Linked DNA regions of Homo sapiens: region 2 is reported to be linked to region 1. The links are microRNA targets in miRTarBase. Many come from high-throughput screens and were not tested one by one. Region 1 holds a microRNA gene; the other region holds the end of a gene's coding sequence.
The links. The annotated mature microRNA hsa-miR-6720-5p reads UUCCAGCCCUGGUAGGCGCCGCG and lies in region 1 at 2,558-2,580, opposite strand. An mRNA with a match to its seed (bases 2 to 7 or 8) in the 3' UTR can be bound and repressed. Matches are read on the target gene's strand: a 7mer-m8 pairs with bases 2 to 8, a 7mer-A1 pairs with bases 2 to 7 and ends in A, and an 8mer does both.

Region 2: the mRNA of TNFRSF13C is a reported target of hsa-miR-6720-5p. Seed matches in the 3' UTR shown: 7mer-m8 at 678-684, 7mer-m8 at 982-988, 7mer-m8 at 1,142-1,148 and 7mer-m8 at 1,809-1,815.

The regions. Positions count from the first base shown.
Region 1 is chr6:1,387,802-1,391,951 of GRCh38, forward strand. MIR6720 (microRNA 6720) reads right to left here and starts at 2,610; the gene lies at 2,513-2,610. It overlaps FOXF2 (forkhead box F2), which reads left to right and starts at 1,775. Exons shown (of 2, transcript NM_001452.2): 1 at 1,775-3,317. The coding sequence starts at 2,147. It overlaps FOXF2-DT (FOXF2 divergent transcript), which reads right to left and starts at 1,660. Exons shown (of 3, transcript NR_187218.1): 1 at 1,218-1,660. RefSeq lists an enhancer at 2,957-3,822.
Region 2 is chr22:41,921,603-41,925,602 of GRCh38, reverse strand. TNFRSF13C (TNF receptor superfamily member 13C) reads left to right here. Exons shown (of 3, transcript NM_052945.4): 3 at 49-3,571. The coding sequence ends at 236. MIR378I (microRNA 378i) reads left to right here and starts at 2,306; the gene lies at 2,306-2,381. RefSeq lists enhancers at 1-68, 69-570, 3,284-3,333 and a silencer at 3,804-3,853.

The DNA of each region.
Region 1 (4,150 bases):
GTAGGTACCAGGGGTGCTCTGGAGGAAGCTGTCGACGCCTGTTCAGCTAATTTAGGTTTTCTTTGTCTAATTACTGTGGAGCTTAGGGAGAAGGAGCCGGCTCAGGGCAGTAAACTGACACTCGGTCTCTGTGTGTGGTATCCAGGCAGGGTTTGATGGAAAAAGCCTGCTTCCACTCAACCTCAGGTCACTGTCTGGGGCCAGCCCCGGCCCACCCCCCTCCCACATACCCCTCCCCTCCCCACCCGCCCTCTCTGCATCTACAGCCCCACCAGCACACTCAGCCAGGAGCAGTCCCCCGGCACTCCAGGGGCACACAGGGCTCCTGCCGCCCCAGGGGGCCTGCCTAGGCTGTGCGGCTGTGAAGGCTCTTTGCCTGGTGTCTTCCTCCTGATTACTGCACAACCTCCCTTTCTCCTGCCTCCTGCAACTCCCCAGGCTCCCCAGCAGGCACACCCGTGCACCTCGGTCCTTTCAGCCTAGACGCAGCGGGGTGCCCAGCTCTACCTCCTGTTTGGTCCGCTGGTCTGCAGCACCTTCTTTCTGGGCCTCCCCCTTCAGCCCTTGGGAGGCCCCGCCAGCTCCGGCCTCCTGCTCTCCTCCTCCCTCTCCCAGCTCCTATCCCTGGTCGGACTACATTTCCCTGCACGTGTAATCCAATAACTAACTGTCGGGTCTCATTGGAAGTGATTGCTCCCGAGGGCACATCTCTCTCAGAGCCTGACTCTTACTTAGGGAGGAATTAGCCACAACTGGGGAGAAGTGTTCTCGGACAGGAGTTAGCTGAGACCTGGCACAGTTTTGGGTGGGCAATGTTAAGACGGAGGATGTAAACCTAGTGACAGCTGCACACCCCTTCAGGACTGACTATAAATATAGCCATCTCGCTTATCTCAGGGTCTTTCTTTTTCTTTCTCTTTCTTTCTTTTCTTCCTTCCTTCCTTTTTCTTTTGCACTTTTTTCTTACAGAACACTAACTGGGGTGCGGGGGTGGGGGGAAGAAGTGGAAGCAAATGCAACCCTAAGTCCCATGAGATCCAGGTTTCCAGAGTCTTTGAAACTTGGCCTAGGTTTCTCAGTGTAAATCCCTCTGCTCAAAGTTCCGAAAACGTCCACGATCGCCAGCGGCCCGCAACCCTGCGGCGGCCCCCAGTCGCCCTAACAATTGTCGGGGAGCCTGCAGGCCCTGCCAGAAAGAGAGAGGATTGGCACGTTACCTTTGGGCGTCTGGCACCCCGGCGTGTGGCTGAGGGCGGCAAAGTCTAAACGAAGTTGACAGATGGAGTCAGTATCGGCCCTGGGGAGGGCGGCCAGGGAGGCTCCGAGCAGCCGCACCCGCAGCAGCACCACTCGGCCCGGCGGGCCAGGAGGAGGAAGGGGGCGCGGAGGGGCGGGGCTGGGTCCTGGGATGGGACGCGGGGCTTGCTGCGGGGGGCAAACAGAAAGAATATTTCATGAAGTCAGAGGTGGTCGAGTTTTGCGAGGGGTGGGGGTCGTCCCCCTGGCAGAACCGGAGTGAGTCTGTGATCCCTCAATTGGAAAGAGGGTGAGTGAGGGAAAGGGGAGGAGGCCGCGAGAGGAATGAAGAGCGAGGAGACCCTGGAGAGCGGGGAGCGAGATAAGAGAGGGAGGCGGCCGCCAGGTCGGGAGGGGGAGGAGTGAGCGCGGCGGCGCGGAGCGAGGAGGGGGCAGGGCGGGGTGGGGGGGGAGGGAGGGAGGGAGGGAGCGAGGAGGGCGGCCGGGGAGGGCGAGGGAGGGAGGAAGTCCGAGAGACAGAGCGAGGAGCGCTCCTGAAGGGAGACGTCGGGCTCGTCCCCGGGGTCCAGGCCGCGGTCCCACTCGCGGGCGCAGTCGCCCGGCGCCGGCCGCTCGGCCCCGCGGCCTGGGAGGCCGTTGCGCAAGGCAGGGCCCGCGGCTCGGGGAGGGATGCGCCGGGCGTTGCCTCCCGCCCGCCGCCGCCGCCGCCGCCAGAAGCCCCAGAGGAGCTGAGGGAGGCGACGCCGAAGCGCTGGCCCGGAGTGGCCACGGCTGCAGCCCGGGCGGCGGGCTAGGGCGCTCGCAGGGCTTCTGGGCCGACCCCGCTCCGGCGCCTCCGCTTCCCGCCCGGGGCCCGCCCTCGCGGCCCGGCCTCGCTCCCGGGTCCCAGATGACCACCGAGGGCGGGCCGCCGCCGGCCCCGCTCCGCCGCGCGTGCAGCCCGGTCCCCGGCGCGCTCCAGGCCGCCCTGATGAGCCCGCCGCCCGCCGCCGCCGCCGCCGCCGCCGCCGCCCCGGAGACCACCTCCTCCTCCTCGTCGTCGTCCTCCGCCTCCTGCGCCTCGTCCTCGTCCTCCTCCAATTCGGCCAGCGCCCCCTCGGCTGCCTGCAAGAGCGCGGGCGGCGGCGGCGCGGGCGCCGGGAGCGGGGGCGCCAAGAAGGCGAGCTCGGGGCTGCGGCGGCCCGAGAAGCCGCCCTACTCGTACATCGCGCTCATCGTCATGGCCATCCAGAGCTCGCCCAGCAAGCGCCTGACGCTCAGCGAGATCTACCAGTTCCTGCAGGCGCGCTTCCCCTTCTTCCGCGGCGCCTACCAGGGCTGGAAGAACTCGGTGCGCCACAATCTCTCGCTCAACGAGTGCTTCATCAAGCTGCCTAAGGGCCTCGGGCGGCCCGGCAAGGGCCACTACTGGACCATCGACCCGGCCAGCGAGTTCATGTTCGAGGAGGGCTCGTTCCGCCGCCGGCCGCGCGGCTTCAGGCGGAAGTGCCAGGCGCTCAAGCCCATGTACCACCGCGTGGTGAGCGGCTTGGGCTTCGGGGCGTCGCTGCTGCCCCAGGGCTTCGACTTCCAGGCGCCCCCGTCGGCGCCGCTCGGCTGCCACAGCCAGGGCGGCTACGGCGGCCTCGACATGATGCCCGCGGGCTACGACGCCGGCGCGGGCGCCCCCAGCCACGCGCACCCTCACCACCACCACCACCACCACGTCCCGCACATGTCGCCCAACCCGGGTTCCACCTACATGGCCAGCTGCCCGGTGCCCGCGGGACCCGGGGGCGTCGGTGCGGCCGGGGGCGGCGGCGGCGGCGACTACGGGCCGGACAGCAGCAGCAGCCCGGTACCCTCGTCCCCGGCCATGGCGAGCGCCATCGAATGCCACTCGCCCTACACGAGCCCTGCGGCGCACTGGAGCTCGCCTGGCGCCTCGCCTTACCTCAAGCAGCCGCCTGCCCTGACGCCCAGCAGCAACCCCGCCGCCTCGGCAGGCCTGCACTCCAGCATGTCCTCCTACTCGCTGGAGCAGAGCTACTTGCACCAGAACGCTCGCGAGGACCTCTCAGGTAACGCAGCACGCTCCAGCCCAGCCAGCTGGGCGCACCGCTTCTAGGCCTCCAGGGCTGGCGGCCACTGCCACTCCCACAAACAGGGACCCCGAAGCTAGGAGGTCTGAGGGCACTGGGAAAAGCAGATGCTGGGGAAAGCCGGCATCTTATTCGTGGGAGCAGGGATCAGGGTCTTACTGTCCTCCCAGTATCCCTGGCCAGCAGCCGAAGCTTCAGAATTGTCTGGCTGCTGTGAGCGTGGTGTAAAGTCCCCTGCCTTCCTGGGCTCTTTGGGGATCCCTGTGCAGGAGACTGCAGGTCTCCCGTTCAGAGTCTCACTTAGCTTGGAGAGAAGGCATCTGGCCTTTGGGGAACTTGGTCAGGAAGCTGTGTCTAGTTCCTTTTGTCCCTTTTTTTCCTTGCGTTCATTTTGCTGTACTTCTGTCCCGAAGTAAATGTCAGAATCAGATATGTTCTGTATGTTGGGGTGTCTGCAGCGAGATGTTTGCAGCTGGGCAAGTGTTAAGAGGAGGGGGTGGGAGGGACAGAGCTGGATCCCAGGATCTTTCACTAAAGGGACATTTGCCAGTGGAGGGGGTCACCAAACTGTTGGAGACTCCTCCCCTTCCCTGCCTCCCCCCCCGCCCAACAATGGACCCACATTGATGATACAGGTCCTGGGTGGCAGGACCTGAAGGACCCTGCTAGGACTCCCCTGAGAAATGCGCCTGCCCTGTGGATGCCACTTGTAGTGTGGCTGGTTTACATTGTTCTGGTTGCAGATTATGAAAAATTATTGACTTGCTGAAGGCGGTGAAAGGTGGGAGGGGACGGTAGGGATGGAAGAGGGA
Region 2 (4,000 bases), not on the chromosome of region 1:
AGGGAAGGCTGTGACTGAGTACGGAGCCTCTACCCCCTCTGCCTGCAGCCCCAGAGCCCCTGGACAAGGTCATCATTCTGTCTCCGGGAATCTCTGATGCCACAGCTCCTGCCTGGCCTCCTCCTGGGGAAGACCCAGGAACCACCCCACCTGGCCACAGTGTCCCTGTGCCAGCCACAGAGCTGGGCTCCACTGAACTGGTGACCACCAAGACGGCCGGCCCTGAGCAACAATAGCAGGGAGCCGGCAGGAGGTGGCCCCTGCCCTCCCTCTGGACCCCCAGCCAGGGGCTTGGAAATCAAATTCAGCTCTTCACTCCAGCATGCACATGCCCTCTTTCTGGGACCAGGCTAACTCTGCAGAAGCACAGACACTACAGACCACAGCATTCAGCCCCCATGGAGTTTGGTGTGCTTGCCTTTGGCTTCAGACCTCACCATCTTTGACAGCCCTTGAAGGTGGTAGCCCAGCTCCTGTTCCTGTGCCTTCAAAAGGCTGGGGCACTATGAGTAAAAGACCGCTTTTAAAATGGGGAAGGCACCATTAAGCCAAAATGAATCTGAAAAAAGACCAAGTGGGAGGATGCCTAATTTGTAGTTGGGTGGTTTTTTGTGTTTGTTTGATTTTTTTTTTTTTTTTTTTTTTTTTTTTTTGAGACGAGTCTTGCTCTGTCGCCAGGCTGGAGTACAGTGGCGCGATCTCGCCTCACTGTAACCTCCGACTCCTTGGTTCAAGTGATTCTCCTGCCTCAGCCTCCCGAATAGCTGGGATTACAGGCACGCACCACCACAGCCAGCTAATTTTTGTATTTTTAGTAGAGACGGGATTTCACCATGTTGGCCAGGATGGTCTCGATCTCCTGACCTCGTGATCCGCCCTGCTCGGCCTCCCAAAGTGCTGGGATTACAGGCATGAGCCACCATGCCCGGCCTTGTTTTGTGTTTTGGTTTTTTTTGAGACAGGGTCTTGCTGTATCACGCAGGCTGGAGTGCAACGATGGGTCCCCAGCTAATTGCAGCCTGGGCTCAAGCAATCTTTCTGCTTCAGCCTCCTGAGTAGGTGGGACTACAGGTGCTCCACCTTGCCCAGCTAATTTTTTTTTTTTTTTTTTTTTTGAGACAGAGTCTCGCTCTGTCGCCTAGGCTGGAGTGCAGTGACGCAATTTCGGCTCACTTCAAGCTCCGCCTCCTGGGTTCACACCATTCTCCTGCCTGAGCCTCCTGAGTAGCTGGGACTATAGGCGCCCGCCATCACGCCCGGCTAATTTTTTTTGTATTTTTAGTAGAGACGGGGTGTCACCGTATTAGCCAGGATGGTCTCGATCTCCTGACCTCGTGATCCGCCCGCCTCAGCCTCCCAAAGTGCTAGGATTACAGGCGTGAGCCACCGTGGCTGGCCTTTTTTTTTTTTTAAAGACAGGGTCTCGGTATGTTGCCCAGGCCAGTCTCAAACTCCTGGCCTCAGGCAGTCCTCCCCGAAGGGCTGGGATTATAGGCAGGAGGCGCCGGGCCTGGCCTCTATTTCTTTAATACCTGCCCTCAGAGCCGTCCTGCTTTTAAACTGATGCAAATGGCAGCAGTGAATAATCAATTCATGGGTTCGCTTGCTTTGGGATTTAGTACAAGATTATTTTAAGAAATAACAAAGGAGAAAAGATTGAGCTGGATTTTGCTGATTCTCAGGTATCTGTACCCCAGGGTCAACCCTGAGATTGGCCCAATCTGCCAGAACCTAAGATGCCATTTTGACCCCAGTGGCAGCTTCCAGAGCCACAAGCCTGCATTTGGGAGGAGGTGCGCAGCCTCCAGGGCTGGACTCCAAACTCGAGCTGAAGGAACATGCTGGCAGGTAGCTCTCTCAGGGTCCACCTGGGGTTCCAGCTGCTCCAAGACACAGCACATTTAGCCATAAACATGGAAGGGCTGGGACCTACAGGAGGCTCCTTTGTGTAGAGGCCAGGGCAGGCGTGTGACCTTGAACCAGGTGGACATGAGGTCCCTTGAACTCCCTTCTCTCTCTGGCTTGTTCCCCTGAAGCACTGGCCCCCCAGTGCTGGGCTTATTTGGCCATCCTGTGCCAGCCCCCTGGTCACCCACCGTCACAGTGGAAGCTGCTCCCTCCTCTTACAATGGTGTTCCTTGCTCTGGGGTCTGGGGACAAGACCATCTCTTTCCACTCCTGGACGACACTGTGCACTCAGTCAGCCGCCTCCTACCTGCCCTCCTGCACAGGGTCAGAACCTCCTGACCTGGACTTCGCCCTGGGCAGCTTCCTTGGAACTTGTTGCAGCTTAGCATCTTTGGAAGGGAGCACTGGACTAGGAGTCAGAAGGTGGAGTTCTGGGTGCTGTTTTCCCACTCTTGGGCCCTGGGCATGTTCTGTTCTGTGCATCAGATGTTTTCTGCCTGCCTCCCCCTGAGCTGCCACCAGAGCCACCTGTAGACCCCTGCTTCTCCTGCCCCTCCTGTCCCTTGCCAGGCCTCTGGACTCAGTGCTTCCTGTCCCAAGGACCTGTTGTGTGCCCAGCTTGGAAGACAGTGGCCACTCACATCCAGGTCTCTGCCTGGCTATTTGCTCCATGAACCCATCTCAGATGCCCCTGCCCCCAGGGAGCCAGGTGACAGGGTGAGGTCAAGTGACAAGCAGTAGGTGTGGGAGAGGTTTGGTGGGGTCAGGCCCACATGGGCCCAGCCATCCACTCCCCTTCCATCTGGAGTTGGGGGAGTCTGAGCTGCTCCTGGCCACCCCATCTGCCCCACCCCATCTTTTCCTGGCCACCCCAGCTCCCACCCCATCTTCTCCTGGCCACCCCATCTCCCACCCCATCTTCTCTTGACACCCCATCTCCCACCCCATCTTCTCCTGGCCACCCCATCTCCCACCCCATCTTCTCCTGGCCACCCCATCTTCTCCTGGCCACCCCATCTCCCCCACCCCATCTTCTCCTGGACACCCCCATCTCCCACCCCATCTTTTGCTACAGCCAGGGTTAGCTCAGCAGGTGAAAACCCCGAGGGTGGGTGAAACCCCTCTGGGGCTCAGACATGCAAACCTTGGGCATCTCTCTGTCCCAGCTGGCCCCGCCAGCCGGTAGGAAGTTTCCCCTGAGTTCTCAGTTTTTTCTTCTGAAAAATGAGGGGTTGTATGCAAGGTTCTCCTCCTGGCCTGTGGTCCCCAGAGAAGGGCAGGAAGGAACCTTAGATAATTCTCATATGCATTTAACAGACGAGGAAACTGAGACCCAGAGCCGTCACATCAATACCTCATTTGATCTTCATAAGAGCACCTGGAGGAGGGGGGTGGGGTGTTTGTGTTTGTTTAAATTTTTTTTTGTGAAAAAAATGAAGATAGGCATTTTGTAGACAATCTGGAAGTTCTGGACCGGAATCCATGATGTAGTCAGGGAAGAAATGACCCGTGTCCAGTAACCCCAGGCCTCGAGTGTGTGGTGTATTTTTCTACATAATTGTAATCATTCTATACATACAAATTCATGTCTTGACCATCATATTAATATTTGGTAAGTTTCTCTCTCTTTAGAGACTCCACAATAAAGTTTTCAACATGGTAAGGTTTTCCACCTGGGCATTTGGATACTTTGGTTTTTGCTGTTGTGGCCAAGACGGCACAGGCCACATGCGCCTGTGCAGGAGTCTCTGTTTCCCAGCACAGTTGTTGCGCCAAAGGCCTTGACTTTTTTTTTTTTTTTTTGAGATGGAGTTTCACTCTTGTTGCCCAGGCTGGAGTGCAATGGTGCAATCTCGGCTCACCGTAGGCTCCTCCTCCCAGGTTCAAGCGATTCTCCTGCCTCAGCCTCCCGAGTAGCTGGGATTACAGGCATGCACTACCACACTCAGCTAATTTTGTACTTTTAGTAGAGATGAGGTTTCTCCATGTTGGCCAGGCTGGTCTCAAACTCCCGACCTCAGGTGATCTGCCCGCCTTGGCCTCCCAAAGTGCTGGGATTACAGGCATGAGCCACCGCGCCCAGCCAGCCTTG